Regions from separate parts of the Homo sapiens genome. Here region 2 is linked to region 1. The links come from fine-mapping of genetic effects on gene expression. Tissue or cell type: esophagus muscle. Region 1 holds a variant in brackets; the other region holds the start of a gene. All regions are shown on one strand. Distances are from middle to middle.

What was found. PIP is the estimated chance that this variant, and not a neighbour inherited with it, causes the effect.
Region 2: it holds the start of TBC1D9B, and the variant in region 1 is fine-mapped to the expression of TBC1D9B in esophagus muscle (GTEx, PIP 0.92).

What each region holds. Positions count from the first base shown.
Region 1 is chr5:179,866,497-179,869,248 of GRCh38, forward strand. It overlaps TBC1D9B (TBC1 domain family member 9B), which reads right to left. Exons shown (of 21, transcript NM_015043.4): 18 at 1,282-1,353. Among named protein-coding and RNA genes, the nearest start is that of MRNIP-DT, 8.9 kb to the left of the region's middle. RefSeq lists an enhancer at 651-1,177. The variant T/C (reference allele first, on the strand shown) is at 1,564.
Region 2 is chr5:179,906,672-179,909,287 of GRCh38, forward strand. It overlaps TBC1D9B (TBC1 domain family member 9B), which reads right to left and starts at 1,226. Exons shown (of 21, transcript NM_015043.4): 1 at 1,033-1,226. The coding sequence starts at 1,150. RefSeq lists an enhancer at 180-957 and silencers at 838-887, 938-1,077, 1,088-1,147, 1,218-1,377.

The DNA.
Region 1 (2,752 bases):
AGGTCGGCAGCACCCCAGTTCTGAGCTGCTCTCGCTGGCTGTCTGGTGGCAGTGAAGGGCACACCTCTCTGGGCTCAGGCAACTCACCCTGGAATGGAGGCCCTGCTTCCTGGGGGCCACATGCGGTCTGAGGCCAGGGCTCTGCACCAACATGCCGCTCCCAGAAGCATGCGGGACAAGCCTAGAGTGGCCTGCTGGTTCCATGTACAACAGAAGGTGTACCTGCTTCTGTAGTTTCTGTCCTTGAAATCAAGGTCCTCAAGCTCAAGTCAGCCTCTGCCACTGTCACCAGGACTGCCATGGGCATCTTGGTACACACTATTTTTGGTTCTCTTTTGAGTCGGTTCCTTGGTGTGCATTATCCCCCATGTGAAACCACCAGGTGGCATTATGGTCGGTTTTGCAAGTGTGCTGCATGTCACCAGCTCGACTGCGAAAGCCCAGGGCCTAGCATGCTCCCATCACCTGGGATCAGATGCTCCCAACAGGCTTTAAACATAGCACAGGGATGAGTTCTAACAGGCACTCAACATGCGTGTTTTTCCTTAACAAAAAACGTGACGTGGAACATGAAGATTTTTCCTAGGAAAGCATCCACTATTCTTTCCAGCCCCCACTCAGCCACACTGTGTCTTTCACACGCTCCAATGACAGCATTTTGTATTTGTTTCCTACTCACAGGAAGACAGAATGTCTCTAACATGTGGCTGTGGAGGCCTTGCCCTGGGCCTGCTTGGCGCCTAGTGTGGGGGCCTTATTTACCGCCCACCTACAGCAGACACGGAGGCGGTGCAGAGGAGTGGCTTGCTTCTGGGTCCTTCTCAGAACTTATGCCCCAGAGGATGAAGTCCCAGAGAGGTCCCTGGGACAAAGAGCTTCCAGGCTTCCTGATAGTGCAGGAAGAGTGTTAGGAGGTACAGGGGGCGCCCCTGCCTTCCAGGGACTGACCTTGAGCCTCCCAGGGCAGGAAAAGATCCAGATCTGAGGCCAGAGGAGATGCTGGAAGGGACAGCAGAGGAGAGGCAGAGGGGCAGAGTGGGGAGGAGCCAAGGTCCAGGAAGACAGAGACACAAGAGAAACAGGAGTGAGGACATCCACAGGGGGCGGCCCCAGCCCCCGCCAGCATGGCAGAGCCCAGCCCGTGGTCCCCTGGGGAGAACCCCATGCGGCCTGCTCCCTGAGCCCAGGTGGGACTGCTGGCCACTGCCCGAGCCCCACAGGAAGGCGGCGGTGGCTGCAGAGTGCTGGCTGGGCATGTCGGGTGTTCCAGTGGCCGCTCACCTTCTGAGGAGCTGTCCTCTGTGAAATAATGGGCCGCCTCCAGGGCTGACTCGGCTTCCTCTGGGCTCAGAGCTGTGCTTGGAGAGAAGGCAGAGTGAGGGCAGGAGGAAACAAGGAGATCCTCTCAGAGTAAGTTCCCTCCAGCCCTGGGCAGAGCCTTGCTTTCCCTGCCCACGAGCCTGGCCAGTCCCAGCACCTGCCCATGACAGTGCCCGGTAATAGTTTTGATGGTGATGATTGGTTCTGGTTATTTGTTACTTTCCTCAGCTTTTTTTTTTTTAA[T/C]GGACTCTCACTTTATCACCCATGCTGCAGTGCAGTCACATGATCTCAGCTCACTGCAAGCTCCGCCTACTGGGCTACAGTGATTCTCCCACCTCAGCCTCCCAAAGTGCTGGGATTACAGGCGTGAGCCACCGCACCCAGCCTGGAGTTTTGCTCTTGTTGCCCAGGCTGGAGTTCAATGGCACGATCTCGGCTCACTGCAACCTCCACCTACCGGGTTCAGGTGATTCTCCCGCCTCAGCCTCCCAAGTAGCTGGGACTACAAGCACACACCACCACGCCCAGCTAATTTTTGTATTTTTAGTAGAGACAGGTTTCATCGTGTTGGCCAGGCTGGTCTCCAACTCCTGACTTCAAGTGATCCACCCGCCTGGGCCTCCTACTGCATCCAGCCGCTTTCCTGACTTTGACATTGTGTTTGAAAAGGAAATACATGTCCCAGGTAAAAATCCAATCAACACAATTAGGAGTCCAGTGAATGGCAGCTGCCCGCCTGCCCCAGTGACCATCTGGCCAGTGGGCCCTTTGGGGGCGTTTCATGCTCCTATGGGCGCACAGGAACCAGCCACGCACAGGCAACTTGCTGCTCTCCCTTTGGGTAGCTCAGAGGTCGGGCCGCGTTGTGCGTGCTGGCCGGCCTCATTCAGTGCAGTCTTTGCTGGAGGTCACCAAGCAGTACCCAGGGTTGCGGATCGCATGGTCCTGGGTGAGTGTAGCGGGCATGGGCCACAAGCCCAGCAGAGCCCAAGTGTTCTCTGTGTCTGGACAGGACAGGGCAGGGCAGGCTGAGGAGGCTCAGGAGTCTCAGGGTAGCCCCGCATGCTCTCAACCCTGGGACCAGGCCCAGTGGGGTCTGTCCTACCACGGCCTCTCTGGTGAGCCAGCCACAAACGAGAACAGCTATGTCAAGAGCCTTCAGCTCTGGAGGCACAGAGCAATGGCCTGCCAGCTTTAAAAACCACAGGTCTGGGCCCCATCACAGGCAATCAAGTGAGAATCTCCTCGGGTGAAGCTCAGCCCCAGTATTCTAAACATCCCCGGGGTCGGTTCTGAGGGCAGCTGCTAACCTCAGATGGCAAAGCGACAGCAGGGACCTGGGGCAGGTCCAGCCACAGCAGAGTGCCCAGCCCAGGATTTCCACCTGCCTGCGCCTTTGTTTCCTTCTGTGATGAGGGAGATGACCCCTCCT
Region 2 (2,616 bases), 40 kb after region 1:
AACCCGAAGCTGAAGGGAACACTGAGTGTTTCTGGGAACAGAACAGTCTCTTCCACATGAAGAAACGTGGCCCAGGAGAAGCCTCCGTCTGCATCTGGCTATTAGCTGCTCACACTGAAAATCAGGATGATTCACAGAAAATGCTCTTGATAAACTGGACGACCTGGCAACACTGGGACCGCAATCCTGTAGGGCAACAGTCGGTGCCCCGAAGAGCACAGGCACTGAGCCCGAGCCAGCCGGGCTCCTGCAGTGCTGGGCGCAGGCCCTGGAGCATGAGGGGCCCCGGACACCACCTGCGGAGGGAGTGGCCTGTGGGCCTCCCCTGGATCCCACAGGCCGCACGACTCCAAGGGTGCCTGTCCAGCTTCATCCTGTGTGATGGTGGCACCCGGGCCCACAAAGGGCCACCTTGGCGAGCTTGCAGGAACACCCTGTGCCGCTACCCACAGCCTTGGGTGCGCAGCTCTGAGAGCAGCCAGGAGCAGGAAAGGTGGGGGAGGAGAAGCTGGGGGAATGGGGGTGCGGCCAGCTCCAGGGACCTCTGATCTTGCTAAAAGGGCGATACTTTGGTGAGATGGGCACGAAGAAGAGGGCAAAAGAAAACGTGCGCTGGCGTCACCTGGCCCCTTAGAGGCACCTGGGGAAACTGAGGTGGAGGATGAGGACAGGGCGGTCTCGCCAACTTTCGGCGGTGAGATCCCGGGAAGCTGCACGGCCCCCGGGGCTCGCGGGCGCCGAATCCGGGCAGAAGCCGCCGCCGGTCTCCACTTGGCCGCCCCAAGCCGACCTGAGGAGAGCCCGCCGAGGGCGCATTCGCCTCCCGCCAGCCCCTCGCCTCCCCGCCCCGGCCCCTCCGCGCCCGGCTCCCGGGTCCTGGCCTCGCGCCCCCGCCCCGCCGCGCGCTGGCGTGCGTGTCCGCCGCGACGCGCCGAGGCCGGGCCGGAACCGGACCCGCCCGCCGCCCGCCGCCAGCCCCGCCGCCAGCCCAGCCGCGGCGCCCACAGGCCCGGCCGCCCGCGCGCCTCTCACCCGTAAGGCCGCCGCCCCTGCCGTGGCCCCGGCGTCGCTGCAGCACGAAGAAGGGGTTGGCCCGCTCCGTCACCCACAGCGCATTGGCCACCAGCACCTCCTCCGGGCTCAGCCACATCGCGGAGCCGCTCGCACCGGGCCGAGGCCCGCGAGACGGAAGCGCCCGCCGCCGTCGGCGTCCCGGAGCGGAGCGTGCGGAGCGGAGCGTGCGGAGCGGGCCGGGGCGGGGCGGGGCCGGGCGGGCGGCGCCCCCTGGCGGGCGTGTGGCGCTCCCGCACGCGGCCCGAGTTCCGCGCCGCCCCCTCAGCCCCGGCCTCGGGCGCGCGCCAGCCTGGCCTCCTGGAGCGGTGCAGCCCACGGCCTCCGGCCTGGGTCCAGAACGGAACGGCCCAGTCCGCAGACAGGGGAGCCGCTGTGCAGAGCAGGGCTTCTGGCGTTTTGAAAGCTGTGCAGTGTGAGAGAAGGATGTCAAGAAGCAGAGTTTGGCGGCTTTTGGCTGGTTGCGCGTGCAACCCGGGGCGTGTTAGCACTGCAAAGGGCGCCTGGAAAGGGTTTGCAGTTCCTCCTAATTCTCAGCTTTCTTTTCTTTTTTTTTTTTCGACAGAGTCTTGCTGTGTCGCCCAGGCTGGAGTGCAGTGGCGCAATCTCAGCTCACTGCAACCTCTGCCTCCCGGGTTCAAGTGATTCTCCTGCCCCAGCCTCTTTAGCTGGGATTACAGGCTCCCGCCAACACGCCCGGCTAATTTTTTTGTATTTTTAGTAGAGACGGGGTTTCACCATGTTGGCCAGGCTGGTCTCGAACTCCTGACCTCGGGTGATCCGCCTACATTGGCCTCCCAAGTCCTGGGATTACAGGAGTGAACCATCGCGCCCGGCCAGTTCTCAGAATTCTGACACTGGGGCCGGGAGACTAGAAGAATCTTCCAGCGCAGGGCAGGTGCCAGGAGGCCCTGATACGGGCTGCATCCTTGGAAATCAGTGCTGCCCCTCCCCTGACAGACGGGTCACAGAGGCTGGCCGGCCCTGGGGATGGGGTCTGGACTGGCCCTGGGCCCAGTGGCGGCTTCTGCGCAAGTGTGAGGCTGGCTGCAGGCGAATGCGGGTCCCTGGTCTCCCAGTGTTGGCCTGCAGGGGCAGCGCCAGTCCACACACAGCCTTCTGCATGAGGGGGCTGTCAACTCCACCTGGGACAACGGGCCTGGGGCCTGTCCGGGGTCGACTGGGATGTGGGGTCACCCTGCTGGCTGGAACCCTCACCAGGGTCTGGCTAGAGGGCAAAGGGAAGGGGGCAGTTAAACCATCCTTGGAGCTGGACCTGACTTCCAGGTGGGTTTCTGTGATTGGCACTCAAGAATCTTGGTGCGATGGATGTAGGTACATGCAGTTGACACCCAGAGTGATCTGCAGTCTTCTTCAATGTTGCTGGATATAGGAATCAGCTTTCAAGATGCAGAGGCGGGCTTTCTTCAACACCTTGGAAGTCTGAACTAATATTGTCATTGTGCTCTCTAGAGGGAAAGAATTTGGAAGAACTGCACTTTTTAACACCCTGAGAGGAGGTAAAGAGTCGTCTTGTTCCTTAAT